Linked DNA regions of Homo sapiens: regions 2, 3 and 4 are each linked to region 1. The links come from fine-mapping of genetic effects on gene expression. A gene starts in region 1. Each other region holds a variant in brackets. All regions are shown on one strand. Distances are between the middles of the regions.

Region 1 (8,109 bases):
TAACAACTTAATTTTCTGAAGTTCTAAACGATAGAGAATATACAGGGAAAATACTAGTTGGTTCTCAGAGCCAAAGTCAAGTGTATGAATATTTTGAAGTTGAGTGTGTAAGATTTAGAGTCCTCAAATGACCTACTATCTCTTCACCAAAATCTGTGAAAAATATGAAAAAACAGTACTTATCTGATGAAATAAGGACTATGCAAATGTTTTTAGTCTACAACATGTAAATGTTCACTAAAAAAAACTAATGAATTACATACACATATACAATCACACATGAGCCAAAATTCAATTCAGCTCTTTATCTGATTATCTTACCTATCTAAACAACCCACTTTCAAAGCTCAAAACTATATATTGCACTTGAATAAAGCTTTAAACATAAAGAATTGTGTACTCACATAAGAAGACTTTAAACCTAAACTGAGAATACACCTAAATTGTTTAAGGGGTAAGGAAAAACATTACTGTGAAAGTATAAGTGGATACACTAGAATGATATATGCTGGTGACTTTTTTTTTTTTTGGTTTTGTAAATGGTTCAATTTTTTCCAGAACATCAGCAGAGAATTACAAAATCAAAGGCACAGTCCAAAATATTTTTGTTTATAGAGAAAAATGCACATACGTAATTTAGCTATTATAAACATTTATCTTATCATTATTACCCTGCTCATATTTGGAAAAATTCAAAACTAAATATAAACATTTTTTGCTTGGAGGCTATTATTAATTTTAAGCCTATAATTGAAGGTTAACAATGATCTAGTCCAATATTATTTTACAGACAACAAAAATGAACAAATGGAAAGGTTGCATGGCTTGTAAAAGTGCACACTAGTTAATGATAAAGTCAACCTAGAACCCAGTTATATTTCCACCAGATCAACTTCTTTCCAACTTAAATATCAAATCATCTCTGATTTGAGATATAAAAATAAAGAGGCCGGGCGCAAGGTGGCTCACGCCTGTAATCCCAGCACTTTGGGAGGCCGAGGCGGGCGGATCACGAGGTCAGCAGATCGAGACCATCCTGGCTAATACGGTGAAACCCCGTCTCTACTAAACAAAACACAAAAAATTAGCCGGGCGTGGTGGCGGGCGCCTGTAGTCCCAGCTACTCAGGAGGCTGAGGCAGGAGAATGGCGTGAACCCGGGAGGCGGAGCTTGCAGTGAGCCGAGATCGCGCCACTGCTCTCCAGCCTGGGAGACAGAGCGAGACTCCGTCTCAAAAATAAATAAATAAAAAATTAAAAAAAGAATTCATAAGAGACATGAGTGAAATACCCAGGGTTTGGTGACTCTGGAAAGTAAACTAGCAATAAATGCATAAATACTGCTTTATTCATTTTTCTTAATTTGTCATGGGGATACTTAAAATGTACAAATGGCCTATAGTGACTTTCTTCCAAAAAGTAAAAGTCATTCAGACAAAGCCTATCATATAGACCCCATTACTACACATGGATAATTTACATGCACCATCAACTATTTGGATCTGAAAAACAGCCTTAATATTATCCATATAAATAACAATACAAATGAAATCCAGAGCAGAAACCACAACTTATTTTAGCTATTACACTAAATCTATGTGTAAACTGTAACTAAAGTTAGCACATATTCATTTCACAGTAGAAAATAATAATTATGTAAATTACAATCATGAAAATACAACTAATACAGAGAGCTGTCCCCAGAAATCAGTGTGACGTTCCTAAAATTTCTTAAAGATAATTTAAAATTTAGTTTAAATAAGGTTGAAATACAAATCCTTTTCTTTTCAACTGTCTCTGATAAGGGCACACATGATCATTACATGACCTAAAGCCAGCCAAGACAAAAATGGAGAAGCAAAAGGAACAGTACCCATCACTGAAATTATTCATTCAATAAATATTTTTTGAGTGTTAGATGCTATACTGAGAATTTGAAAGAAAAAAAAAAAAAGACTAAGCAAAAAGCAGATAGAATCACTGCCCTTGTGAAGTTTAACAAAAGCTGATAGAGCTTTTATTAAATATGTTACCCCCCAAGAAGCACTGTATATGTTGAAACTACCCTTATTTTTAAAGCAATTTTTGATGTCTGTATATTATGGTTAAGAAAATCAGCCTTGCTTATGGTTCCATTTACCTACTTTAAAGATATTTACCTATATTTTAAAACACCTAACAGCCTATTTGTCTCAAAAAGTTACATCCTAGACAGCACAAACGGCAAATTAAACGGATACCATATTACTTTACCATTTACAACTCAAAGTGCTGTAATAATTACATTATACAAATACAGTCAATGAAGAAGGTCTTCTTGCTAGATAAACATTTGTAATAATTCAAGTATTTTTTAAAAAGTCACTGTGAGTTATTGCATTTAAGTCCTGGAATAATTATCTGTATTCCACTTAAGATGCTAGACACATTTTTACACAAGAAAAATAACGGAAAAATACAGAGAAATTGCAAAGGAAGAAAAAGTTTCATCATCATCTGATTCTTAAGAGGAATATCACTAGGTGATGATTAGGAGTCTGATGGAGGAAAGTAATTTTAAAACAACTTAATGGCTCAGAGAAGTTCCTAAGAAATTGATGCTTAGGGTTTCAATTTTTCTTAATACTCAGATATAAGACTTAAAGAAAATATATCAGCATGTTAAAAACCAGTTATCTCTGAATACTAGGCTTACTATAAATAGTTCTTTTTTTTTTTTTTTGACGAAGTCTCCCCCTGTGGTCCCGGCTGGAGTGCAATGACGTTATCTCAGCTCATTGCAACCGCCTCCCAGGTTCAATCGATTCTCCTGCCTCACCCTCCCGAGTAGCTGGGATTACAGGAGCCCGCCACCACGCCCGGCTAATTTTTTGTATTTTTAGTAGAGACGAGGTTTCACTATGTTGGCCAGGCTGGTCTCGAACTCCGACCTCGTGATCCGCCCGCCTCAGCCTCCCAAAGTGCTAGGATTACAGGTGTAAGCCACCGCGCCCGGCCCAATAGTAATTATTCTTTTATTGTTTCTATATTTTTCTGAAGGAAATACTACATTTACAGTTATAAAGCATTAAGGAAAGGCAGGCCTTAAAATAAATCATTGACATAAAGACTAGGTATCCTCCACAGTCCCACTCTTAATAACAACTGCAGAACCAGCACTAGCACTGTAGCTGAAAAGTGGATAGTACACACACGCTCACATACACAATGGCTGGCATGTAGTAGGCACTCAACTAACGTGTGAAATGAAATGGCTGAAGATAATGTAAACAAGCCAAAACAACGAAATGCACTCTGATTTGGGGGCAACACAGTAAACAATCACAGTAACTACCACTTTATCCAAAGCTCGCTGACAGCTGAATGGGCATTAAATGAAAGAGCTCTTCTTCCTTGCCCTCCTCTTTCACTCTGACGCTAGATTGCACATTCAAAACAAATCCTCCTCCAGCCCCGCCCCAAGCTCTACCCTCCAGTACCTTCAGCACTGGAACTGACACAAAGTCCAGGGCTGCGACGGTGTCCAGACCCGGGCCCCTGTCCAAGGAGCTGCGCGCTCACAGATTTGGCTGGCGCAACATAGGCGGGGGCACTGGGCGGCAGCCCATCATGCCCGGGACCCCCAAGGACCCGCGCGGAAGCCCAGAGCTCTCAGCCCCGGCGGGAGGCTGGTTCCCCTCGCCCTGCGCTGCCGTACCTGCACACGGTGATCAGGTTCCTCCTCTCCACCGCAGCATTGCGGGCGCTCAGGCTTTTCTTGCCGCCTCCGCCGCCACCGCCGCGGATCCCGCTCAGGCCCCCCAGGCTCCGGGAGGCCATGGCGGGCTTACCCCCGTGCCCCTTTTGTCTCGTGCCACCCCGCACGCCCCCCACACCTGCTTAAGGGGGTTCTCGCTCGGTCCGCAACCGTGGGGGCGCGGGAAGGATGTAGGAAAGGAGCCTGGAGGGAGGAAGGGTGTGGAAGACAGCAGGGACTCGCACCCGGGGACTGACGGCTCGCCCTTGGCACCCGAGCTCCACACACACACACACACACACACACACACACACACACACACGCACGCACGCACCACCTCCGCCCTCGGCGCGCCGCCGACTGCCGGGCTGCGCCTGCGGGTCGGCGTCAGGCGCTCTCCTCCTTCCCGAGGGACCTCAGCAGACGGCGCGCGCGCGAGCCCGTCGGCCCCTCACGCCCAACCACCCACACTCCGCAGCCACTCGTGCCCCAGCCCGGGAGGCAGCGGCAAGGCCCCCGGCCTCGCGTGCGCAGCCCCACCCTCTCTGCGCCTATCAAATCAACGCTACCCCCGCCGGATCCAATCGCGGCACCAGAGGGGCGGGGCCGGCCGCGCGGACCTTTTAAAGCAGCGGGCTCAAGCCCCGCCCCGACGCGTGGGCTGCTGTCAAGGACGCTGGGCTCGCTTTCGCAGCCCGCTAGCTGCCGCCAGTAGCCACACAGGCTAGCCGCGGGGATTGTGGGATGCGGGGCCCCACAGCGCCAGGGGCCTATTGCCCCCCCCTTGCCTGTAGCCAAGCTTTAACGGCTGATACCTATTTGCGTGGCTGCCGTAGCTTCAGTGCCTGCCTAGAAAGCAGCGCGCCGGCTCCCACACCCGACCTTGGGCCTAAGTACTAAGAAGGGAGGAGGGTTCCTTTTGTCCTGACGCCCTCCCAGGGGCTAATAAACAGCAACACAATGGCCCGAGGGGGGAATTGCTCGTAGAATCTCCTTCTTGGCGCGTCTAGTGCCGACATTTCTTGCCCCTCCACACCATGTCGCTCCCACCTCAGCCTCCAGCGCAGCCCGCACCCGGGACTGACGGCCCGCCTAAGGAGGAGCGTGGTGCCAGTGTAGAGTCTTTTCGCGTCCTGGGCCGTGACTCCGGAATCGGGAGTCCGGGTCTGGGAATAGTAAGCCCAGGAACGACGCGGCCTCGGTCCAGCTGGGCTGCTCCCTCAGAGTCCTGGAACGCCCTCCTCGACGCGCGTGTTCGGAAGCGCCCCCTTCCTAGAGCTTCTCACTACCCACCGTTTTACCTGCAGGAGGGTCCCAGCTTGGGTCAGGTCCTCTGACACTCACCTACGCCTGCTGTTCACCTCCCTTTGCACCAATATGCCCAGATTTTAGAGTGCAATCCTAAATGACTTACTCTCCCTATGGGACCTAGCACAGTGCTGTACATAGAACAGGTTCTCAATAAATGTTTCTCGAATTTAATTTGAAGTCACATTTGACATAATTTTTACTGAAATTTCACGGCTTCAGTGGCTCCAAAATCCATGTATCTTTCACCTCTACTTTTGAAGTTTCTGTCAAAGAATGTCAGAGAATATATAGTTTTGTGTGGCTATCTCTATTTTTCTTATATATTATCCCTGTTAATGCAGGGCATACTGTTACTCTTGAATGTTTTAACAACGCACGTTTGTGTAATAAAGTTGTAAATTCCTAATTTCTGAGGTTTTTAAAGTTTAAAAATCTCTATTTAAAATAGTCAAAAAATCATCCTTTTCAGCTACCATGTCTAATTTTATTCTACTATTCTGTTTAGTAGAATAAAAATATATGGGCTGGGCGCGGTGGCTGACGCCTGTAATCCCAGCACTTTGGGAGGCTGAGGCGGGCGGATCACGAGGTCAGGAGTTCGAGACCAGCCTGACCAACATAGTGAAACCCCATCTCTACTAAAAATACAAAAATTAGCCGGGTGTGGTGGCACGCGCCTGTAGTGGCAGCTACTCGGTAGGCTGAGGCAGGAGAATCGTTTGAACCCGGGAGGCGGAGGTTGCAGTGAGCGGAGACTGCGCCAGTGCACTCCAGCCTGGGCGACAGAGTGAGACTCCATCTCTCTCTCTCTCTCTCTCTCTGACATATATATGACATATATATGACATATATATGACACATATATATGACACATATATATGACACATATATATGACACATATATATGACACATATATATGACACATATATATGACACATATATATGACACATATATATGACACATATATATGACACATATATATGACACATATATATGACACATATATATGACACATATATATGACACATATATATGACACATATATATGACACATATATGACACATATATATGACACATATATATGACACATATATGACACATATATATGACACATATATATGACACATATATGACACATATATATGACACATATATGACACATACATATGACACATATATATGACACATACATATGACACATATATATGACACATACATATGACACATATATATGACACATATATATGACACATATACGACACATATATATGACACATATACGACACATATATATGACACATATATGACACATATATATGACACATATATGACACATATATATGACATATATATGACACATATATATGACATATATATGACACATATATATGACATATATATGACACATATATATGACAATATATATGACACATATATATGACAATATATATGACACATATATATGACAATATATATGACACATATATATGACAATATATATATATATATATATATGTCTCAGCCTGGGCGACAGAATGAGACTCCATCTCTCTCTCTCTCTCTCTCTCTATATATATATATATGTACATATACATATATATGTACATATATATATATATATTCCTCTCTCTCTAGCCATACGTATATAGTGTCAGTCTTAACTAATGTGCTATGATAAATATTCATTCATACATTAAAATTTTAAGAAAACAATTTAGTCAGACTTTACACTTTATCTTTCAAGTTAATAAAAGCAGGCGAAATTTCTATATATGGATGTTTGTGACTAGTCAGTGCACTTCTTCCAGAACATTACGTGTCTGCTCTCCTGTGACACGGAGGCTTATAAAGAGTCTTCTTTTCCTAGGAGCTACAACTTAACTTGTCTCTTCTTGCTAGTTCAACAGTTTGGATTCAGAAGTAGCCATCAGGAAACAGATGCACTGGTTATGCAGGCAGTCTCAGCAAAATATTTGCGCTGGCAATGACAAATACTACTCAAATTGATGTTGTTATTATTTAACCACAGATAAAACTGCAGAAAGAAAAGAGTGGAAAACCATCAGTTATCAATAAAATTTCTAAAAACCGATGCTTGGGTGTGTCGTGAGTGAGGGAGAGAACACACATGCCTCTGAAGCATTTATCAAGAAGATAAAAGTGAGTGGTCATGACAGAACGAGAAAAGTGAGATGTTAATATCCTCAAAATTGGCTTCCTAGCCTCCAGTACATGTTCATGTTATTTTCACTGTGAACTATGACTGAAAACTTAGTAAAACTCCATCTTAAATGATGAGGTAATCGTGTTATTTTTCTTTTTTCTTTTTTTTTTTTGAGACGCAGTCTCGCTCAGTCGCACAGGCTGGAGTGCAGTGGCAGGATCTCCGCTTACTGCAAGTTCCGCCACCCGGGTTCATGCCGTTCTCCTGCCTCAGCCTCCCGAGTCGCTGGGACTACAGGCGCCTGCCACCACGCCCGGCTAATTTTTTTGTATTTTTAGTAGAGACGGGGTTTCACCGTGTTAGCCAGGATGGTCTCGATCTCCTGACCTCGTGATCCGCCCTTCTCGGCCTCCCAGAGTGCTGGGATTACAGGCGTGAGCCGCCGCGCCCAGCCATAACGTTATTTTTCAAATGTTACTCTTAGAAGGATTTAGTTGACATGTTAGTACTTGCTTACCAAGACTTTGCCATAAACAAGCTGTGTTTTTCTTTTTTGTTTTGTTTTGTTTTGCATGTATGGAGTGTCATTACACTGCCACATGGGGGCCTTATTTGATAAGGCTTTTCTCATTTATCCTAAGTAGTATGTCCTGGGTCTCTTTCTCCCTCTAGATTACTAATCTGGATATTGTCAATCAATTTATTCAGTACACAGCATAATACTATTATAGAACTCCATGAGTCCACGTTACTTTTTGGACTTCTTTTGGCACCTATTTCAATTATTTTTATTTATTTAAGCATTGCACAAAGGTATTCAAAGATTTTACAAAGAGTCACAGTAAAAATTATGAAAACAGTAGATACCTAAATTAACTTATAGGAATTCTGTAGAA
Region 2 (8,109 bases), 190 kb before region 1:
AATTTGCTATGCTTCTCTTTCTAGATGACATATTTGCTTTAAAAAAATTATTTAGGAAGGTTTGTATTTTAGTTCTAGTTGTTACCTTTATACAACTAGACAAATCTAATGCCAACTTCATTCTTTTCTCCCTTTCTAGTTTGTTTCATCTTTTTGCCTGGAAGTCACCAGTATGTTTTCATTATTGTTACTATGTAATAATTTTAGTAGAATTTGTCTTGTAGGTGATTACTTCAGGCAAATTTTCTTTAGTACTTGGTTAGATCTTTCAATTTGTATATTATGTCTTCATTTACTTCCAAACGTTGTTCTTGAATGATAGATTTTGGTATTAGTTCTGTTCCACTATTTTATCTTCTCCAGTGACTCTATAAACATGTAAATTTGATATTCTTGCCTTTCTAATTCAACCACTTCCTAACTCATTTTACTTCTTTCTTTATCTCATTTTCATTCTCTTGGTTGTTTTCCCATTTTTCTTCAGTGTTTTAGATTAAGTTTTCTTTCAAATCCATTCTTCTTTAGATACCTTGTATTAGTCCATTTTCACGCTGCTGATAAGGCATACTTGATACTTGGAAATGTATGAAATAAAGAGGTTTAATGGATTCACACTTCACGTGACTGGGGAAGCCTCATGATCATGGTGGAAGGTGAAAGGCACATCTCACATGGCAGCAGACAAGAGAAGAGAGCTTATGCAGGGAAACTCCCCTTTTGAAAACCATCAGATTTCGTGAGACTCATTCACTATCATGAGAACAGCACACTAAAGATCTGCCCCCGTAATTAAATCACCTCCCACCAGGTTCCTCCCATGACGTGGGAATTGTGAGAGTTACAATTCAAGATAAGATTTCGGTGGGGACAGCCAAACCATATCATTCTTCCCCTGGCCCCTCCCAAGTCTCATGTCCTAACATTTCAAAACTAATCATGCCTTCCCAACAGTCCCTCAAAGTCTTAACTCATTTCAGCATCAATTCAAAAGTCCACAGTCCAATGTCATCTGAGACAAGGCAAGTTTCTTCTACCTATGAGCCTATAAATCAAAAGCAAGTTAGTTACTTCCTAGATACAATGAGGGTACAGGAACTGGGTAGATACAGCTGTTCCAAACTGGAGAAATTGGCCAAAACAAAGGGGCTACATACCCCAAGAAAGTCCAGAATCCAGCAGGGCAGACAAATCTTAAGGTTCCAAAATGATCTCCTTTGACTCCCTGTCTCACATCCAGGTCATGCTGATGCAAGGGATGGATTCCCATGGTCTTGGGCAGCTCCACCCCTGTGGTTTTGCAGAGTACAGCCTCGCTTCCGGCTGCCTTCACAGGCTGGTGCTAAGTGTCTGTGGCTTTTCTGGGTGGATGATGCAAGATGTCAGTGGATCTACAATTCTGGGATCTGGAGGACAGTGGTCCTTTTCTCACAGCTCCACTAGGTGGTGCCCCAGTAGGGACTCTGTGTGGGGGTTCTGACCCCACATTTCCCTTCTGCACTGCCCTGGTAGAAGTTCTTCATGAGGGCCCCACCCCTGCAGCAAACTTCTGCCTGGGCATCCAGGTATTTCCCTACATCTTCTGAAATCTAGGCAGAGGTTCCCAAACCCCAATTCTTGACTTGTGTGCACTTGCAGGCTCAACACCACGTGGAAGCTGCCAAGGCTTGGGGCTTAGACATTTCTCCCATTGTCTTGGGGATTAACATTTGGCTCCTTGTTACTTATGCAAATCTCTGCTGGCTTGAGTTTCTCCTCAGAAAATGGTATTTTCTTTTTCTTTCTTTTTTTTTGAGATGGAGTCTCGCTCTGTCACCCAGGCTGGAGTGTGGTGTGATTTCGGCTCACTGCAAGCTCCACCTCCCAGGTTCACGCCTTTCTTCTGCCTCAGCCTCCCAAGTGGCTGGGACTACAGGCACCCGCCACCATGCCCAGCTAATTTTTTTTTGTATTTTTAGTAGTGACAGGGTTTCACCATGTGCAGGAGGTATTTTCTTTTCTATCACATTGTCAGGCTGCAAATTTTCTGAACTTTTATGCTCTCCTTCCCTTATAAATTGAATGCCTTTAACAGCACCCAATCACTCTTGAATGCTTTGTTGCTTAGAAATTTCTTCCACCAGATACCCTAAATCATCTCTTTCAAGTTCAAAGTTCCACAAGTCTCTATGGCAGGGGCAAAATGCTGCCAGTCTCTTTGCTAAAATATAACAAGAGTCACCTTTGCTCCAGTTCCCAACAAGTTCTTCATCTCCATCTGAGACCACCTCATCCTGGATTTCATTGTCCATATCATTATCAGCATTTTGGTCAAAGATATTCAACAAGTCTCTAGGAAGTTCCAAACTTTCCCACATTTTCCTGTCTTCTTCTGAGCTCTCCAAACTGTTCCAACCTCTGCCTGTTAACCCAGTTCCAAAGTCCCTTCCACATGTTTGGGTATCTTTTCAGCAGTGCCCCACTCTACTGGTACCAATTTACTATATTAGTCCACTTTCACACTGCTGATAAGACGTACCCAAGACTAGGCAATTTGTGAAAAAAAGAGGTTTAATGGACTCACAGTTCCATGTGACTGGGGATGCCTCACAATCATGGTGGAAGGTGAAAGGCACATCTCACATGGTGGCAGACAAGAGAGCTTGTGCAGGGAAACTCCCCTTTTTAAAACCATCAGATCTTGTGAGACTCATTCACTATCATGAGAACAACCTGGGAAAGACTTGCCCCAATAATGCAATCACCTCCCACTGGGTTCCTCACATGACACGTCATTTCTTCTTCTTTATTAGACATTGATGTTCTTAGGTTTTGATTTCCAATTTGAAATGTTTCTGTCTTATGACTAATTGCTTGTTGGAGGATATTTAATAAAATTATATGATTTTATTTTATGAAAGTATCAAATTATCACATGTACCCCCAAAATATGTATATCCATTATGTATCAATTTTAAAAGTTACTTTAATAGGATACAGAAATTATATGGCTTTATAACATCTTTTTTCCTGCTTCACTATTGTTTTCCTGGGTGGTGAAGTTCATTGGCTTAATTATTTTTCTCAATTTATGTGATTTTTTAAAATTAGTTTTGCAAGGTATAACGAACCCAAATGCCCATCAATCAACAAGTGGATACAGAAACTGGTATGTATGTATGTATGTAGGTGAGTGTGTATATATATATGTGTGTGTGTGTGTGTGTGTGTGTGTGTGTGT[A/G]TATATATGAAATGGAATACTACTCATTCATAAAAAGGAATGAATTAATGGCATTTACAGCAACCTGGATGAGATTAGAGACTATTATTCTAACTGAAGTAACTCAGGAATGGAAAACCAAACATCGTATTTTCTTACTCATAAGTGGCAGCTGAGCTATGAGGATGCAAAAGCATAAGAAAGAGACAAAGGAGTTTGGGGACTGAGAGGAAAGGGGTGGGAAGGGGATGTGGGATAAAAGACTACAGTTGGGTGCAGTGTATACTGCTCAGGTGATGGGTGCACCAAAATCTCATAAATCACCACTAAAGAACTTACTCATGTAACCAAACATCCCCTATTTCCCAATAACTTATGGAAATAAAAAAATTAAAAAAAATAAAAATAAAAAATAAAGATACTCAATTTTAAAGAAAGAAAAAAAATAGTTTTGCATAGACAGTGTGTTTGCTCCTCAGGATTTCTATGGAAAGGGCTATGTGACTTGGATGGTTTATGAAATTTTAAAAAGAGTACCTGTTGGGGTTCAATCAGGCTTGTGGAAAAAATATTACAGATAGTTATAGAAATGGACATAAATCATCTTGGAAGGCCAGAGGTTTGCATAACTTTGGTAATAGATCTGGCTAAAGGTGGCCTGATCCCTTTACCTTTAGTTAAACAAATTAAAATAGTAATAAAGAAAGGCAGAGTAGTTTAGCTAGCTAGCTTGTTTACACATGTGATCTTTTTTTTTAATTTTATTTTATTATTATTATACTTTAAGTTTTAGGGTACATGTGTAAAATGTGCAGGTTTGTTACATATGTATACATGTGCCATGTTGGTGTGCTGCACCAAATAACTCGTCATTTAGCATTAGGTATATCTCCTAATGCTATCCCTCCCCACTACCCCTACCCCACAACAGTCCCTGGAGTGTGATGTTCCCCTTCTTGTGTCCATGTGTTCTCATTGTTCAATTCCCACCTATGAGTGAGAACATGCAGTGTTTGGTTTTTTGTCCTTGCGATAGTTTGCTGAGAATGATGGTTTCCAGTTTCATCCATGTCCCTATAAAGGACATGAACTCTCAATTTTTTATGGCTGCATAGTATTCCATGGTGTATATGTGCCACATTTTCTTAATCCAGTCTATTGTTGTTGGACATTTGGCTTGGTTCCAAGTCTTTGCTATTGTGAATAGTGCCGCTATAAACATATGTGTGCATGTGTCTTTATAGCAGCATGATTTATAGTCCTTTGGGTATATACCCAGTAATGGGATGGATGGGTCAAATGGTATTTCTAGTTCTAGATCCCTGAGGAATAGCCACACTGACTTCCACAATGGTTGAACTAGTTTACAGTTCCACCAACAGTGTAAAAGTGTTCCTATTTTTCCACATCCTCTCCAGCACCTGTTGTTTCCTGACTTTTTAATGATCGCCATTCTAACTGGTGTGAGACGGTATCTCATTGTGGTTTTGACTTGCATTTCTCTGATGGCCAGTGATGATGAGCATTTTTTCATGTGTTTTTTGGCTGCATAAATGTCTTCTTTTGAGAAGTGTCTGTTCATGTCCTTCGCCCACTTTTTGATGGGGTTGTTTTTTTCTTGTAAATTTGTTTGAGTTCATTGTAGATTCTGGATATTAGTCCTTTGTCAGATGAGTAGGTTGCGGAAATTTTCTCCCATTTTGTAGGTTGCCTGTTCACTCTGATGGTAGTTTCTTTTGCTGTGCAGAAGCTCTTTAGTTTAATTAGATCCCATTTGTCAATTTTGGCTTTTGTTGCCATTGCTTTTGGTGTTTTAGACATGAAGTCCTTGCCCATGCCTATGTCCTGAATGGTATTGCCTAGGTTTTCTTCTAGGGTTTTTATGGTTTCAGGTCTAACATGTAAGTCTTTAATCCATCTTGAATTAATTTTTGTATAAGGTGTAAGGAAGGGATCCAGTTTCAGCTTTCTACATATGGCTAGCCAGTTTTCCCAGCACCATTTATTAAATAGGGAATCCTTTCCCCATTGCTGGTTTTTGTCAGGTTTGTCAAAGATCAGATGGTTGTAGATATGCGGCATTATTTCTGAGGGTTCTGTTCTGTTCCATTGATCTATATCTCTGTTTTGGTACCAGTACCATGCTGTTTTGGTTACTGTAGCATTGTAGTATAGTTTGAAGTCAGGTAGCGTGATGCCTCTGGCTTTGTTCTTTTGGCTTAGGATTGACTTGGCGATGCGGGCTCTTTTTTGATTCCACATGAACTTTAAAGTAGTTTTTTCCAATTCTGTGAAGAAAGTCATTGGTAGCTTGATGGGGGTGGCATTGAATCTGTAAATTACCTTGGGCAGTATGGCCATTTTCACAATATTGACTCTTCCTACCCATGAGCATGGAGTGTTCTTCCATTTGTTTGTATCCTCTTTTATTTCATTGAGCAGTGGTTTGTAGTTCTGCTTGAAAAGGTCCTTCACATCCCTTGTAAGTTGGATTCCTAAGTATTTTATTCTCTTTGAAGCAATTGTGAATGGGAGTTCACTCATGATTTCGCTCTCTGTTTGTCTGTTATTGGTGTATAAGAATGCTTGTGAGTTTTGTACATTGATTTTGTATCCTGAGACTTTGCTGAAGTTGCTTATCAGCTTAAGGAGATTTTGGGCTGAGACAATGGGGTTTTCTAGATATACAATCATGTCATCTGCAAACAGGGACAATTTGACTTCCTCTTTTCCTAATTGAATACCCTTTATTTCCTTCTCCTGCCTAATTGCCCTGGCCAGAACTTCCAACACTATGTTGAATAGGAGTGGTGAGAGAGGGCATCCCTGTCTTGTGCCAGTTTTCAAAGGGAATGCTTCCAGTTTTTGCCCATTCAGTATGATATTGGCTGTGGGTTTGTCATAGATAGCTCTTTATTATTTTGAGATATGTCCCATCAATACCTAATTTATTGAGAGTTTTTAGCATGAAGGGCTGTTGAATTTTGTCAAAGGCCTTTTCTGCATCTATTGAGATAATCATGTGGTTTTTGTCTTTGGTTCTGTTTATATGCTGGATTACATTTATTGATTTGCGTATGTTGAACCAGCCTTGCATCCCAGGGATGAAGCCCACTTGATCATGGTGGATAAGCTTTTTGATGTGCTGCTGGATTCGGTTTGCTAGTATTTTATTGAGGATTTTTGCATCAATGTTCATCAAGGATATTGGTCTAGAATTCTCTTTTTTGGTTGTGTCTCTGCCCGGCTTTGGTATCAGGATGATGCTGGCCTCATAAAATGAGTTAGGGAGGATTCTCTCTTTTTCTATTGATTGGAATAGTTTCAGAAGGAATGGTACCAGTTCCTCCTTGTACCTCTGGTAGAATTCAGCTGTGAATCCATCTGGTCCTGGACTCTTTTTGGTTGGTAAGCTATTGATTATTGTCACAATTTCAGATCCTGTTATTGGTCTATTCAGAGATTAAACTTCTTCCTGGTTTAGTCATGGGATGGTGTATGTGTCGAGGAATTTATCCATTTCTTCTAGATTTTCTAGTTTATTTGTGTAGAGGTGTTTGTAGTATTCTCTGATGGTAGTTTGTATTTCTGTGAGATCGGTGGTGATATCCCCTTTATCATTTTTTATTGCATCTATTTGATTCTTCTCTCTTTTCTTCTTTATTATTCTTGCTAGCGGTCTAACGATTTTGTTGATGTTTTCAAAAAACCAGTTCCTGGATTCATTAATTTTTTGAAGGGTTTTTTGTGTCTCTATTTCCTTCAGTTCCGCTCTGATTTTAGTTATTTCTTACCTTCTGCTAGCTTTTGAATGTGTTTGCTCTTGCTTTTCTAGTTCTTTTAATTGTGATGTTAGGGTGTCAATTTTGGATCTTTCCTGCTTTCTCTTGTGGGCATTTAGTGCTATAAATTTCCCTCTACACACTGCTTTGAATGTGTCCCAGAGATTCTGGTATGTTGGGTCTTTGTTCTCGTTGGTTTCAAAGAACATCTTTATTTCTGCCTTCATTTCGTTATGTACCCAGTAGTCACTCAGGAGCAGGTTGTTCAGTTTCCATGTAGTTGAGCGGTTTTGAGTGAGTTTCTTAGTCCTGAGTTCTAGTTTGATTGCACTGTGGTCTGAGAGACAGTTTGTTGTAGTTTCTGTTCTTTTACATTTGCTGAGGAGTGCTTTACTTCCAACTATGTGGTCAATTTTGGAATAGGTGTGGTGTGGTGCTGAAAAGAATGTATATTCTGTTGATTTGGGGTGGAGAGTTCTGTAGATGTCTATTAGGTCTGCTTGGTGCAGAGCTGAGTTCAATTCCTGGGTATCCTTGTTAACTTTCTGTCTCGTTGATCTGTCTAATGTTGATAGTGGGGTGTTAAAGTCTCCCATTATTATTGTGTGGGAGTCTAAGTCTCTTTGTAGGTCACTAAGGACTTGCTTTATGAATCTGGGTGCTCCTGTATTGGGTGCATATATATTTAGGATAGTTAGCTCTTCTTGTTGAATTGATCCCTTTACCATTATGTAATGGCCTTCTAAGACTAACCTTTGGTGTACCCTGGGTGCTTAAGTACCTTTTACTCAGGAAGCCCACAATGTCAATTACCCTCTAATGGTGTTGACTCAAGCTTTTGTTAATCTTACTGAATAATCAGTCGGACTAGCTGATCAGGGCCGAGTCACAACTGTTTACAGGACTCAGCAGAGAGCCCGTAAGCAGCTCGGACCTTCAGCTGGACTGGCATAGCAGAATATCTGTGTGTCTGTGTACTTTATGCATCTGTCGCTGGGTCAGGGGTCTGCAAGGGACAGACTCCCCATAGCTCGTTCCCCCTTGAGAGGAGTGCTGCCGGAAGTACCTCCTATCAGTGTGCCAAAGTATGCTGTTGTTGTTGTTGTTTGTTTGTTTGTTTTTACTGTATGG
Region 3 (8,109 bases), 520 kb before region 1:
AAATCTCTTTTCCCATAACACAATACTGGATATACTAATCTATTTCTTCTTCTTCTTCTTTTTTTTTTTTTTTTCTTAGAGTCAGGGTCTTACTCTGTTGTCCAAGTTGGAGTGTAGTGGTGTAATCATGGCTCACTGCAGCCTCAAACTCCTGATTCCAGTGGTCCTCCTGCCTCAGCCTCCCAGGTAGCTGGGACTACAGGTGTATGCTACCAGACCCAACTAACTTTTAAATTTTTCACAGAGACAGGGTCTCACTATGTTGCCCAGGCTGGCCTTGAATTCCTGACCCCAAGCAACCTCCCTCCTCACCCTCCCAAAGCACTGGGATTATAAGCATGAGATGCTGTGCCCAGACAATTTTTTTTTTAATTGGTAATTGAATGATATTTGGATGAGCATTCTTTTGGAATACAGATGTTTTTTTCAACCTGTTGCCCTAGAATTAAAGAAGAAATTATAGGCTGCATTTATTTTACAGACTGCCAACTACAAAGGCTCATTATCCTTTCTTCAATATATTTCAGTACTTCCCCAACTATTACATATGATTCTAACTTAACTTATAAAATATCTTTACTGTTGTTAATACTATCTTACATATTATTTATATCCAACACATTTTAATTATTAGTAGAGATAACAATAAACATATTTTTAAAATATCTTGTGAAGAGTAATTAGTAAGTCAGCAAGATTATATACAAAAGTATCAGACTTTACCACATGGAGAAAAAAGAAAAATTAGAACCTGTATTTTTCACCAACATAGAAAAGAATGTATTACTTTATTCTTTAAAAATGCTTTTTAAAATTATGTTATCATTTTACTGTATCTATCATAAACAAAAATGCTTTCTCAACAGAGAAGAGATATTCATTCAAAACTTTTTTGAATGTCATTTATGTATATGAACCTATGTAATCAGGATATATAAAGACAATTAGATATGATCTTTATTCACAAGAAAATTATACTCTAAATAAGAAGATAAATCACACACATAAACAACTTATAAAACAAAATTACGGACAAATAAGTACAAAGGGCTGTGGAAGTTCAAAGAAGAGAGAGATAATTTATTTCTAGAGTAAATCATAAAGAAATTTATATATAGAAAGTGTTTCCCAAGCTGGGCTTTGAAGAATAGGTATATTTTTGGCTGATGATGGTATGAGTTAAAGGGTGCTTCTGGAGGATTATAGAGCATAAATGTAGGCATGGAGGTAGGGACATATTCGGAATGGTAAGGTTTGCTAGATTTGGAAGAATATAAATGAAATGACAAAAAGTGTAGGTTGGGGACAATTGTTGAATAGGTGCAGTGCCAAGCTAAGGTTCCATTTAATTTGTTAACAAGACTATGACATTCAGCAAAATGGTGAAGAGAGAGTTCTGAAATCATACTCTCCAAATTCTAATTCTGCTTATTATTACATCCCATATACATGACTTCGGACAAATTAACTGTGTCTCAGTTTCCTCCTCCATAAAATGGGAGGACTGCCATGAAGATTAAATGGCATAGCTTATGTAAAGTGTGATACAGTGCTTAGCACACAGTGTTCACTCAATCAGTGCTGGGTACTGTTCTCACTATTAATTAGTCATGTGGAACCAGTGAACTTTCAACAAAGAATTGACAGTAAAAAAGACCCAAAAGATTATTCTGATAGTAGTACACTAGGGAATGCTGGCACAGAAAACTGTTAAAAGAATTTTGTAATAGTTGAAGGATTAATATAGGTCTTAGTTCAGGTAATGGTAATAGGAACGTAAGTGAATACATGAATTAAAGACAAATGGTGGCAAAGCAAAGGGAAGAATGGATGTAATTTAGCATTTGGACAATGTGTAGAGGGAAGGATCACTTTAAGGCTTCTAGACAGAAGGACAGTGAAATATTGAGACCTTTGGCAAAAAGGGGGTGGTTTGGGAAAGTTAGAGCCAGTTAATTCAATTCAACAGCACTCAGTGCATATTCTGGTGGCTTTAAGTTCTTTTGCCTTTGAGATGCTAAAAGGTGTCTTCTAGGTAAGAAAATCCTGAGGTGGGGGCAAGTATGACCTGGGCCTTAGGAGAGAGGTGAGCACACATGTTCAAGATTTGGAAGCCCTCTGCACAGGTGATGCTGGAACACTGGGAAGAGATGAGGTTAAGGAGGCAAGAGCACACTTTGTGTGATGCAGAAAGCAGAAACTTCCTAGTCACTCAAAAAAGTACACTTGTAATTGACCAAGGGATGAATTCTGGGCTGACGTCTCCACCTCACCGTTTGTTGCACTGTATCCATGTGTCTTTGTCTTTCCCACAGTTACCCTTCTCCGTCCCTTCAATATTCAGTTTCTCATAGCAATATTTGTCTGATGCTGTCACCTCTAAGGCAGAAAAAAATTTTCTATCAGTGAGGGAAGTACGATTTGGCTGCTCAAAAGCTTTGCAGAAAAGAAAAATTGTAATATAAGGACTCTTCATCACTACAGTGTTATCAATTCCAAAAATGTTACCAACGAACGGTTCACAGTTTTACCATGGATCATATATATCCATGACTCAGATAGGTTTTCATTAAAGCTCATTTGAAATTTAGTAAACAAATGTATTTAGTTCTCTGTTGGGACTCAGGCTGTAGGCTACAAAAACAAACACTCCTTAGAATTTGGCCAATAATTCGGGCAGATCATGAAGTCAGGAGATCGAGACCACCCTGGCCAACATGGTGAAACCCCGTCTCTACTAAAATACAAAAAAAATTAGCTGGGTGTGGTGGTGTGCACCTGTAGTCCCAGCTACTTGGGAGGCTGAGGCAGGGAAATCGCTTGAACCCGGGAGGCAGAGGGTGCAGTGAGCTGAGATCACATCACTGCACTCCAGCCTGGCAACAAAGCAAGACTCCATCTCAACAACAACAACAACAACAACAAAAGAATTTGGCCAATAATTAGGGAAGGCAATAACAAATATTTCCTTGAATATATACTCTATTCTTTAATCTCAGTGCTAAATATAATACATGAATTTCTCATTCAGCATATTTTGTTAATCATAAAGACAAGTTTATTATAATAGTTATATCCTGTAATTAGATTCAAGAAACAGTGGTACAATTTCTACCTTGCTCCCCACTTCTTAGCAGCTATCAAAAGCAATTTTACTTTGCTTTAAGACAAGCTTGAATTCATGCTAAATCTCTGGAAGTCAAATAACATTTTAAGGTATATCAGTATCTTTTTCAGGCTTTTATCTTTTCTAAAACCAGGGACAGTTGATAGAGTTATCTAAGAATTAGGACAAAATGCAAACTAATCAAAGGATAATTGTTGGTATATTTTTAAAAAAAACAATAGTTATGTCGGTAGTTATGTTTCCTACTTCTTGTTGTCAGCTACTATTTTTGCTCAAGTGGATAAAACAAAA[A/T]TGATATCTTTTTTCGGAGTACAAACCTGCCTGACTAAATGTTTTCCCATCCCAATGTTTCCAATTGCTTAAAGAGAGCATACACTTCCCCTCCTAAAAGGATTGTGGCACCTACTTATAACTATTAAGAATTATCATTATTTTTATAGCCTTTTTCCTACTACAAATTGTCTCCTGAAACAGTTTAAAACAAAAACTGCTTCCAAAAGTTTGGGCTAGTAGTACTTCTAGGAAACAATACATTACTCAACATTTAAATAAACATTTAAATAGAGTATAATTTAAATCTAAATATCATATATTTTCCTTTGAAAATCTGACAGACTTTAAAGGCTAAACATTAACATTTCTTTCTGATACAGCAAAGCCACTTTAGCAGAAGTGCGTAACTAGGAAAGCCAACTAGAGTTTAAGAAAAATATCCAAGGAGGAAAAAAATGACTCTAGATAAAATGCTGCTGTTCTAAGTTAAGGACGTCCTGTCCAGGGTCCACGTCCATCCCATATGGTTGTGAAGCTTTAGCTTCAGGGCACTCAGCTGAGAAGAGTATACATGGAGCTGAAATCCAGGTTTGCTCTATTCTCCAAGCTGTGCACCCTGGCATGGGCTCCATCTGCCTGGCAGCAAAGGCACTTTCTGTCTCGTCCACAGGCACTGCCAACTAGCCAAGATGTGTGGGGCTGCTTCTCAAAGGGGTGCCTTACTCTAATTTCCAGAAACATGCCCCTGCTAAGACCTGTGGTAGCTTTGAGAATCCCCCAGTCATAAAGTAGTCAAAAATTTACTTCCAGCACACACGTCCTTGAGAAGTCCGCCTGACATCATGCTTTAACAATGATCAAGCCACACTATTTACTTACTTTGCCCCCAAATGTATTTGCATTGTCTATCTCTGGTTTTGCATCTTCCTCCAAAGCAAATTCCCTAAAACGGAAAAGCAAATACCCATTAGCGATGCAATATCTGCTTATGTCAGATAACTGAAAAAGAAACTATGATTGGGAAAAATAATAGATGAATAGTAGAGAGGCCTTTTATCTTCAGAATTGATTACAAACATTTAAATTGATCTTCCTATTTTGATAAGATTTCAGTATTCCTTTCATGCTGGTACATGTGAAAAACATAGGTAAAAATGAAGTGACCTACCTGAACACCATCACATGAATATCCATCCATTTTATGAATATTAGGGGCACACTAGGAAAAAGAGAACAACTATGAATGAAATGCAGTGCAAAATATAAGGCTGAGCTAAACCCTTTAATGTTTTCACTTTTAAAAACATATTTGTTAATATGGCTAGTCCCTTATACCATCTATAAAACAAAATGCAAAGGAGGTCAAGAGCAAGTGGATGTCCTTGAAGTCTGGGTATTTGGTAAAAAATAAATTAAAAAAATAAAAGAGAAAGCAAGAGGAAAAACAATGGGTACACTTGCCCCTGAAAATATGAATCTACCAGAGGCAAAAACAGTTGATTACATAGCAGCAAATAAAAAGAACTGACTACCATAGACTCAATTAATGATACATTTAAAAGTATCTTGATTCATACAGATATACTATTTTTCAGAGCAAGAAAGAGAAGGGGACAATAAACAAAGAGTAAGTCTGCATAAATGGAGCAATAACTAGTTTCCTTTCTTTTGCCATGAGAAGAAACATAGCCCTTATACTAAAAATAATGACTTTCAAGCCAAAGTCCACTTTAAGAATGTCAGAAAAGGGCACACTTTATAATCCTTTTTTCCTTGCAGCAATTATGAAAAATTATAAGGCAATATTGAATGAGTATAAACAGACAGCAAAGCATGCAATTATGTTGCCTCTTTGTCTTCTGATGATATCATGTGCCATTTTGCAAAAACGGAATACCAAGAGAGGAAACTGGCCAACAGAGATGAAAGTGCAGCAAAGAAAAGTGATGACACCAGAAGTGAAATGCAAATTGAACTTGTAAATGGAGTTACAGAAAAAAATTGCTGACTGTGGGAATGTCAATATTGCTGTTCAAGAGCCTCTAGACATGCAACCAGAGGAACTTGCTGAAGGAGGACTTAATGACATCGGTGAATAAGGTGATTGTGACATATAGGTGACGATGTCCCAGAGGGGGTAACGCCAGCAAGAAACTTCACATTCACATCTTCACATCTCTCAGGGATATCTCATGACATTGAAAGCACAAAGAATAAAATGTTGTAAAATGTTGAAAGCTGATCCAAACTTAGAAAAGGGTGTGACAGTTCAACAAGGCATAGAAAATATGCTCACTCTATATCATAAAGCTTATAAGAAGGCAAGCTCTATTCAAACTACTCCTAAGGTTTTTACAAAGAAATAAAATCCTTTAATTCTCAATGTTTCTCTTTTAATGTACAGTATGCTAAATAAATACTATTCTTTCACCTTCCTATCCATTTAAAACCAACAGTAAGAGAGTTTTTAATAATCTGACAGCATTTTTTGAGGACTGCAAAACAAGTGCAGTATTTTCCTTTGATTATTAAAATGACTTTGCATAGTCTCAGCTTGCATGGTCATTTTTATGGTTTGGCACTACCCTTCAAAGTGAGGACCGTCTGTATGTACAGTGACCATTTTGAAATCTGTGAACTCCCACCAAAGTTTATTCAATTTCTCTAGCTTGTCTATCTATAACTAAGTGCTATAAAATTCAAGAGCAGCTATTGATGGCTGAGGCGATGCAAGCTATCATAGATAAGAGTCAAGAGAAAGAAAAGGGTCCTCTCTAAGAATCCAGTGTGTTTGTGAGTCCCTGCCTCCACTGACTTCTTGTTCAATCAGCTGAAGAGAGTTTATTTGTTTCTTCCTTTACTAAGTAGATGAAAAGAAAATGCCTTGTACTACCTACTTAATACAAAAACAAAATAGTTAAGGCATGCACGCAGTCTGAGGTTAGTTCAACGTTAAGACAAAATTATGTTCAAAATCTGCTCAAGCTTCAATCACTGAAACTTAAATTCCTAAAAAAAATGGAGAAATGATGTGAAAGAGACACGAGCATCTTGTTCATTTACATTTCTCTTTGAGGGTCAGTGCACTAAAGATACCCCCACTTTTTCCCATAAGTTTTAGAGCAGTTATTTTGTAAATTACCTGGCTTGAATTTCCTGAGCACGTTTCACGAATATCACAATCATTTACTGCTTCTCGGCACACAGTGCCCATAGGCTGAAACTAAAATGAACAAAAATCAACGTGTGAAACTGTAGGGAGAAAAAAAAATCTTACAATATCATCTAAAAAAAACAAAATGAAAATTGTTTGGCTAGAAATACCTTAAACTACTGTAAGATGGTAATCTGTCAAAACCACAGTTACTGAAAAAAATTTTATTTTAATAGTTTTAAGAAACAGTTTCTTGTGTATGATGTAATTTCCATAGTCATTACACATAAGCCTTATATTATACTGCTAAATTCCACAAGACAGGCCAGTTAGTCCAGGTTCTAGTAATTTTTCTGTACTAATAGCTTTTGAATTTACCCTTTACTCTTCATTCTCACCGACACTTTTATCACATTATCCTTTTCTGCCTTATCTACCAAGAATCAAAAAATTACATTTTGGGTTGAACCACAAAAATTAGATTTTCTGACAAAGCTATTTCCTCCCATGTTTCTTCTACCCTTCTTCTCCCCTGCCTCATTTTTACATGGATTTAGATCTTGGTCTTTTATTATTTTCTAGTGTTTCTATTATTTAAGTCTTCATATAGGCATTTTTGTTTTTCTGTTTTCCATCATCTCAAATACTTCTTGCAAGTGTGAGAGTTATACAAATAAATGTTTAACTTCATTAGGTTAAAAATGTGAATTGCAGGAGTACTCATTAAAATGAAACAGACCTGAGATATATAGTTAAAGTACTTCCCCTTCCCTTCTCAATCCTTCTCTTTTTCTCTATCCAAAATGTTAGCATTCAGGGCTGTATCCTTACATGCTTTGTGTCTGCTCACACAAAGGCACATGTTATTCTGCTTCCCTCACTTTCTAGATAAGCTTTATCTTCTCTAGCTGCTCAGAACTCTACAGGCATTTGAGTCTCCTGCTGTTCCTAGAACATGCACTGCCCACTATAAACTCCAATCTGGATTTCAACAAGTATTTTTTTTTAGAAGACCCAAACAAAATATGTATTCATTCATCCATTCATCAAATATTTAATAACGTGCCAAGCACTGTTCTAACTACTGGGAACTCAATGGAGAACAAAACACAAGAACCCTGCTCATCAGGAACTTGCATCTTAATGTGGGTTAAAAATAAGGAAATAAGAAAATTTAATTTCACGTTTCTCTTCTTCCTTGGGACTAAGACAAGCCAACATTTTAGAATATCTAGGGTAGAAATATGAGCAAATTTGGGGTAGTTTAGAGGAGTGCATAATGTTCAAGAAGTTCCAGGAAACTTCTAAAAGAAAGAATAGGGAGGGAGGATTTGCACTAAGTGCTAGGATACAGCAGTATATAAATCAACCAAAATCCTTGCCAATAAATACCCTTGTATTATAATGGGAGAAGAAAAGTAATAAACAAGTAAACAAGCACTCTTTAACAGCAGTGGTCTGCAAACTGTGGCCCATGGGTCAAACTTCACTGATTGCCTATCTTTATAAATAAAGTTTTATTGGAACACAGCTATGCCCATTTGTTTCTGTATTT
Region 4 (8,109 bases), 92 kb before region 1:
GGGACTCAGAGAGACAGGGTCTCACTCAGTCACCTAGGCTGGAGTAAAATGGTGTGATCAAGGCTCACTGTAGCCTTGACCTTCCAATCTCAAGCAATCCTCCCACTTCAGCCTCTTGAGTAGCTGAGAGTAGAGGCAGGCACTACCACACCCACGTGGTTTTTAAATTTTTTTTTACAGATGGGATCCCACTATGTTGCCCAGGCTGGTCTCCAACTCCTGGGCTCAAATGGTTCTCCTGCTTCAGCCTCCCAAAGTGCTGGAATTACAGGCGTGAGCCACCATGCCTGGCCTTGAATTTAATGTTTTACTTTTATTATGATGTGTACGATTAAATGTTGGCAAAGACGCTTTATCATATTTGGACATTTTTCCTATATTCCAATTTCACTTTTTTTTTAAATATTGGCTGATTTTTGTCAAATATTTTCAGCTCTTAACTATGTGTTTATAACATAACTGATTAATTTGGGTTAACAAGGCACCTGAAACAGGAAATATTTTTATATGAAATGCACAATCCTAGTCTTGTATTTATATCAGCTAAACCTTAGTTGAATATGGTGAATTACATTATTTAAACTCTTTTACCTTCAATTCAGTGTAATTTTACTCATTTTTAATAATTAAACTAATAACTAAAATGTATTTATACAGCATATGTATTATCTTTGTCAACCTGTGACATTAGCCTAATGATGGATTGGTATTTTTCTGTAGGCTGTGAACATTTGCATTGCATTGGACATTTCTGTTCTTTGAAACTTAACTAAAATTCTCAAAAGAATCATAAGGTAGTTATAACTTATTTACTAATGGGCATTTCTAAACAACTTCCTGATGGAGGATATTGTTATTACTGTATGTCTCAGTATTCTACATTTTTAAAAATTAACTATTTTTTGAATATTACCCATTTTCTCTAAATTTCCAAATATTTTAGTCTTTATTCTATTGTGATTATATATCCCTTCTTCTGACAGACATTTCTTTATTTTGGTTGAATTATTCTGTACTTATTAGGTATTTGTCTATTTTATTTATCTATTCAGGTCACTTTTAATTTCAATAGTTAAAAATCCATTAATTTTACTGTTTAGCTGAATTAATTGCATTCTCCTACTTTTATGTTTCATATTTTTGTGCTTCATTTGTTTCAATCTTTTATTTTTCTTGTTAAAAGGAATCCATTATTATTCACATTATCATTGACAACTGTGAGAATCTGCAGAAAAAAACAATATGGAACTACAACTTCACGTTCTTGAGAAAAGCTTGCAGTGTAAGATGCGTTTGTTTGTGGTGCCTGAGGAAGAGAGGTTGGTGAAATTGCACTTGGACTCAGTGAATCGGAAATAGTTTTAACTCTCCAGTGGAACACACTGTGAAGTTGTCAAGTCCCTTGATTTCTCAACGATACCAACTAGTTCAATAAGCAAAGAGAGTATGCTTGTGCCTACTTGTTGCCCAATGAAAGAATCAAATAATTTCACTGATTCCAGCAGCAGAAAAAGAGAGTTGGTAGTGCTGAGCTGCTGAAGGTTCATTACTGCTTAGCCTTGAGAATGGAGGCCCCACTTGGTACTCTTCATAAGAGATGCCCCAACTCGTCAAAGGAATTATGGTAATCTCCTTACTTTCTGTTGCACATTCTTCCCTCTGCTAATCTCAGTACACTCATACTAACTTTCTTGTCTGTTAAGTGATCTCACATGTTTTGAAACCAAGTTCAGATAAACTCACAAGTGGGTTAAGGGGCCAGAATAGTTTAAAAGAAATACAATTACTTCATTATCTCACTTACATGTGAACTTTAAAATGTTGACCTTATAAAAGTAGAGACCAGAATAGTGGTTACCAGAGGCTGGGGGGTAGGGGCATGGGAGGTGTTGATCAAAGGTACAAAATTTCAGTTAGGGAAGAGGAATAAGATTTTGAGATCTACTGTACAGAATGGTGACAATAGTTAATAATAATATATTGTATATTTCAAAATTACTGAAAAAGTAGATTTTAAATGTCCTCACTACAAAAAATGATAAGTATAAGAGGTGATAGATATGTTACTTAGCTTGATATAATCATTAAATGATGAATATATATCAAAACATCAAGTACAATTACTAATCAAGTAATTTAAAAAAAAAATTAAAGGAAAGACAGGCAGAAGGAATTATTATTGCTGTGTTGATGAAACAGAATGAACAAAAGATAAATTTTGTTTCCGGAATTTAAAAATGAGAGTTTCTTAATTTAAAAAATGTGATAATGTAAGACAAGACTTGGAAAGGCAAATAAAGGTAACATTTTACAGAAATAATAAAAAATGCAACGCTATAAAATAACTAATAATATCCCATGAAATACACAGAAAATATTCCAAAAGTTCAAGCAGAACTCAAAGAAACAGATGAGATCAGAGAGAGAGAGAGACAGAGACAGAGAGAGAGAGAGAGAGAAAGAGAATGTTAGAATAGGAGCATAACAGTGAGAAATAAGATCTAATTATTCATGTTATATTTAACTGCTTGCTCAATCTTAGAAAGTGCAATAAAAAATTTCAGAAATGCTAACCTAAATTCTGCAAAAATCTTCCTAACTAGACTTTAATATTTGTTTAAAAGTGTGTTTGTTTTGAGCTTGAAGGTATATAGTCCAAATGTAGTCCTCATGCTTTAGCTGGGTTAGTTCATTAGCCATTTCAGGGTGATCATATTATTTATTTGAATTTAGTTTGGTTCATCTATTTCTGTTTGAATTTTATTTATGGTACCTTTGCCATAATTATTGATTATTTTTGTTCTCTCACACTCTCTCATACGTGAAATATTTACATGGTTCCAATTATCAGAAGCATACCATAATGTATATTCAGAGAACTGACATGTTACCCCCTTCATTCTATTATTTTCACTATGTTCCCATCCACCTCTGCTTTCTGGCTTAGTATTCCCACTTTTGATTTTAGAGGAGCCACCAGAATGTTTTATTATCTCCTCCCATTTTTAAACACAACATAGAGTATAGTTTTTTTATACTTTTATTTTACCTAAAAATAGCCTGCTACATATTATAATTATATATACAATTATAATATAATCATACTCTATTAACTTAAAATTTTCTTTTTTTACAGTTACATAGTACTCTGTGTCTGCATACATTTCTGATTTAGTCAATCTCCTTTGTTTTGACATTTAGCTAATTTTAACTATAATATTTTAAATTATACATTTAATTGGACATTTAGCTAATTTTAAACTATAATATTTTAAATAGTTAAAATAGCTAATTTTAACTATTTAAAATATTATAGTTAAAAATTAGCTAAATGTCCAAACACGAGGGCTCACGCCTGTAATCCCAGCACTTTGGGAGGCCAAGGCAGGTGGATCATGAGGTTAGGAGATCGAGACCATCCTGACTGACATGGTGAAACCCTGTCTCTACTAAAAA[T/C]ACAAAAAATTAGCAGGGCGTGGTGGCACGCGTCTGTAGTCCCAGCTACTCAGGAGGCTGAGTCAGGAGAATCATTTGAACCCAGGAGGTGGAGGCTGCAGTGAGCCAGAGCTCACCACTGCACTCTGGCCTGGGTGACAGAGTGAGACTCTGTCTAAAAAAAAGAAAAGAAAAAAAAAAAGAAAATTATAATTATTGCATACACACACACACACACACACACACACACACACATATATCCTATCTTCTGCTTAAATTTGTGATATCCTATCTTTTGCTTAGATTTGTGGAAGTGAAATTGCTTAGCCGTAAGTTACTATGTAGATTTTTTGGATAAAACCAAAAATCCTTCTTTAGGAATGTGCATTTCCTCAGAAGTTCATGGGAGTGCATTTTCCACATATCCTCACCAAAGAGTGCTGTAACTCCTCCATCAGCCTGTCTGTCTCTCTCTCTCATCTTTCTATCTAAACTTGGCTAAAATGACATAAAAGAAATAATATCTCAGTTTATATTGATAATTCCCTTATAATAAGAAAAGTTAAATAAATGTTCATATGTCTAAGAGCTTTTGACATATTCTTGTGAGTTGTCAGTTTACATCTCTGCCCTTATGTTTCTATCAAATTTTTAGTCTTTTCCTCCCAATTTGTATTAATTAAAAAAGTCTTTTATTGTTAAAATAATGTTGCAAATATTTTCTCCCAGTTTTTCAATTGTATTTTGATGTTTCTATATGGTGTTTTTGCTTTGCAAAGTTTTTCTTTCTCTTTTTTTTTTTTTTTTGGATGTAGTCAAATGTTCCACTAATTTTTTTCATTACCTCTGAAATTTTATTCAGACTTAGAAGAATTTTACCTACATAGGGTTATATAGAAATTCATCTCTGTTTTATCTCATCCTGAAATGTTTTGATTTCTTTAAAAAAGTAAATACTACATTTATTTTAATTATTATTTTATATAATGTGAGAAGGGATTTAATTATGTCTTTTTCAAAATGGCAAACTGATTGATTGATTGATCCCAGAGCTATGCATTACAAATCTCCTCATCACCTCAGTGTTTTAAGATTCTACCTTTATCATAAACTAAAGTTTATTTTTTACTTGCATTTATTTCTATTATATAACTACTTCTTTATCCTATTTCACTGTATGTCTGCATGCACCAATGCACAGTTTTAATTGTAAGGTTTTTATATAGTATGTTTAGTATCGGGTAAAGCTAATTTCTTCCCCTATACTACAGCTTTCTTTTTAGTATTTCCAAGTTAATTTTGTATATTTACTTGTGTATTTTTGTACATTTTGTATACTTTTATATGTTTATATTTCTTTTGTATATTTTTTATATTTATTTTGTATGTTTATTTTTACATGTAATTTCAGTATCAACTTGTCTAATTATGTAAAGAAACTTATTAACATAGAGATTGCAGCCAAATTATAAATTAACTTATAGGGAGCTAAGCTGTATTCTATAAAGTTTAAGCACCTCACACAAAAGTAAAAGACTTCTTCCCATTTTAATAATTTTAATTTTATATTTTTCAGGCCTTTTAAATTTTTTTCATGTAGATTTTACACATTTCTTCTTACACTTATCTCTTAGTATTTTATAGTTATTGTTGAATATTGATTTTATGTGTTATTATGTTACCTGTGTAACTATGTTACCTGTGTTACCTGTGTTATGTTACCTGTGTAACTATGTTACATGTGTTACTTGTGTATATGTATTAGATATGCTATTTTAATGTTTACTGTACTGTTGAATTGTTTTATTTTAATTTAGTTTTATTACTGAATCTCTACGGTTTTCTAGTTACAAAACCTTATCATCTACAAATATAAATAGCTTTCCTTTTTGTTTCTGATTCTTATGTCTCTAAATGATTCATTTTGTCTAACTGAATTGGCTAACCTCTACTATTAAGTTGAACATTAGTAAGAAGAGTGCAATACATTCTTTAAAATCTTATTGGAAATACAAGTAGTGTTTCTGAATTAAGTAAAATACTGATTCTAGGACTAAGATTATATAAAATTCCCATATCATGTTAAGAAAGTAAACATCAATTAACAATTTTGTACTTTTTTTCATCTCTCAGGAATAAATCATACATTTTGTAAAGGACTTTCCATCTTCTGTAGAGGAAAAATAGCTGGTTTTTACTTTTAGATGTATGAATATGGTGTGCAGAAAGAGTTAACATATAGCAGACCTGATTTCTATCCTTCGAAAGGCCTGATTAAAAGATTAGGCTTGGCTGATGCTGAGAACTTAGATTTTGGAAGGATTACCATCACTCTGATGGGTAAGAATGGCTCACTGTGCCTAAACTGCTTGTACAAAAAATGTAGTTTATGCTAACCTTTTTCTTTCCTTCTAGGAGTCTGGAATTTTGATAGGTGCTAGGCAGAAGGTGCCTCCTGACTATCCCCTAATAGAAACCCTAGGCACTAAATCCCTAATGAGCTTCCCTGGTGGACAGCATTTCATGTATGTTGTCCAAAGTTGTTGCTGAGGGAATTAAGCACAGCCCATATGATTCCACAGGGAAAGGACTCCTAGAAACTTTCATACTTGTTTTTCACTGGACATTGCCGCATATGCCTTTTCCCTTTACTTATATGCTTTGCATCCTTTTACTGTAATATATGATAGCCATGAATAAGACTATGAGTCCTCCTAGCAAATCATCAAACCAGAAGATTCATATGGTTTTTATATCAATGAATTTCCTAATATTGTATCAATATCATATTCCCAGAATAAATCACACTTGATCAAAATGTATCAGTTTCTTAATGATGTGTTATATTGTTACTAATATTTTTACATTTCAATCAATATTAATAACTGATATTTGTCTATAATTTTCTTTTCTAACTGTATTAGGTTTAGGTATAAATGTCATACTTACTTTACAAAAAGTATTAGATTTTCCTTAATTTTTTGAAATTTTCTTTTTTATAAGGTGCAAAAATTTTCAAAATCATTGGGACTATCCAGGCTTTGAAATTTTGATACAAGTCTTCCTTGAAATCATCTGGGCTTAATGATTGATTTTGAGGAAGTGTCTTGATAAATTTTTCTTTTCCTGATAGAGAAATTAGCTTATTTAAATTTTTTACATATAGTAGGGCCTATTTGGGCAAATTATATTTCTGTAGGAAATTATCATTATATCTTTCAAATATATAACAGAGAGATTGTAGGATTTTTTAAATGCATCATATGTCATGTCAATGGTTACTTCCTCCTTGTCCTTTTATTATACATATACCTCAGTTAAGGTAGCTAGTAATTGGTCTCTCTTGAAAATTTTTTACCAAAAAATATTATTTTTATTTAGTAATTATGTGTTTCTCAATTTAGATAAATTGATAAAGCAAATATTGTTTATTTTTTGCTTTATTGTTCCTTTATTTTTTCTGTTTGTTTTTCTTATCTTGTTTAACATGAAAATTTCATTCATTTATAATTTGTATTTTTATTAATAAAAGGGTTTAGGGCTATAAAACTTTTTCTGGCTACATTCTTGAATGTATTACAGGTGTCCTGATATAGAATACCTCCATTATCCATGATTTTTATTAAAAAACACTTTTGGATTGTATTTTACCTTTAACCCAAGAGTTTAATTTAAAAAGGGAAAGAAAAATGATAGAAGTAGGCCAGGCACAGTGGCTCACACCTGGAATTCCAGCACTTTGGAAGCTGAGGCAAGAGGATACTTGAGCACAGGAGTTACAAACTGCCCTGGGCAACATAGTGAGACTCTGTTTCCACAAACCAGTTTTAAAAGTTAGCCAACTAATTTGGAAAGATGGCTTGAGCCTGAGAGGTCAAGGCTATAGTGAGCCATGACTGTGCCACTGCACTGCAGCCTAGAAGACAGAGTGAGACCCTATCTTAAAAAATCATAGAAGTAATAATATCATAATTATACACAATTAAACTACATTGCAAATACCAAAAATTTTACTTGTTTTAAATTTCTACACTAATCATGTACAGCTGTAACAGTTGTACAGTAAACAGCTGTATATAGCCTTCACTTCTCACTAGACATCTTATCAAAAAAGAACTTAAAATTTATGGGAAAACCTTGCACTTTGTGTTAGAAACTTAGTTTCTTGGCTTTCTTATTCCTATCTGATGGAGGGCAAAGAACTTCACTAGTTTGCAGGCTACGCAGAGACAAATTAGAAAAGAAACATAAAACAGAAATATTTTGTGTATAGCACATTGCCCAAAGATGAGATAAATTGGTCTAAAAATGATATGGTGCAATGGAGACATTTAAGAGCTTGTTAGCAATTCCTACAGGTCCCAAGAGGTTCAAACAGTTCAGAAACAGAACAGAACATGATTCAGTATATTTTCAGAGAATTCAAAAGTTTTTGTAAAGCTCACTCAGGAAATCTTCAGGGAAAAACAAACTTTGCTCCTCTTTTTATTTGGTAACTTTCTATATTCTCAGAATAAGCTTGAAAACCATTTTACGTTGGCTCCAATATCCCACAAATCTGGCAACAGTGACAGGAGTCATGTCATTCTGACAGTTGGACCTGACTAAACTAAGTTAGTGGCCACCAGTGTCTGTCAATTTTAATGATGGTAGGCAGATTTCCCAAAGTGGTAA

Alleles and levels. Alleles are on the strand shown, and positions count from the first base shown. SD is a standard deviation of normalised expression in the study named. Not every link is listed here.
For the expression in CD4 T cells of the gene that starts at base 4,244 in region 1, allele A in region 2 goes with a lower level than allele G (large effect, 1.0 SD a copy in BLUEPRINT).

What was found.
Region 2: its variant is fine-mapped to the expression of RUNDC3B in CD4 T cells (BLUEPRINT, PIP 0.91).
Region 3: its variant is fine-mapped to the expression of RUNDC3B in sun-exposed skin (GTEx, PIP 0.97).
Region 4: its variant is fine-mapped to the expression of RUNDC3B in blood mononuclear cells (TOPMed, PIP 0.98).

What each region holds. Positions count from the first base shown.
Region 1 is chr7:87,624,533-87,632,641 of GRCh38, reverse strand. RUNDC3B (RUN domain containing 3B) reads right to left here and starts at 4,244. Exons shown (of 11, transcript NM_001134405.2): 1 at 3,697-4,244. The coding sequence starts at 3,818. It also overlaps a transcript of ABCB1 not described here. RefSeq lists silencers at 4,000-4,049, 4,100-4,329 and an enhancer at 4,195-4,489.
Region 2 is chr7:87,818,900-87,827,008 of GRCh38, reverse strand. The region is part of intron 10 of RUNDC3B (RUN domain containing 3B); the gene reads right to left. Among named protein-coding and RNA genes, the nearest start is that of SLC25A40, 53 kb to the left of the region's middle. RefSeq lists an enhancer at 7,577-8,078. The variant A/G (reference allele first, on the strand shown) is at 3,218.
Region 3 is chr7:88,147,491-88,155,599 of GRCh38, reverse strand. ADAM22 (ADAM metallopeptidase domain 22) reads right to left here. Exons shown (of 32, transcript NM_001324418.2): 18 at 6,543-6,623; 19 at 4,569-4,619; 20 at 4,280-4,343; 21 at 2,274-2,379. The region is part of intron 2 of LOC105375386 (a long non-coding RNA gene); the gene reads left to right. Among named protein-coding and RNA genes, the nearest start is that of SRI-AS1, 65 kb to the left of the region's middle. The variant A/T (reference allele first, on the strand shown) is at 3,419.
Region 4 is chr7:87,716,124-87,724,232 of GRCh38, reverse strand. The region is part of intron 4 of RUNDC3B (RUN domain containing 3B); the gene reads right to left. Among named protein-coding and RNA genes, the nearest start is that of RUNDC3B, 92 kb to the right of the region's middle. The variant T/C (reference allele first, on the strand shown) is at 3,457.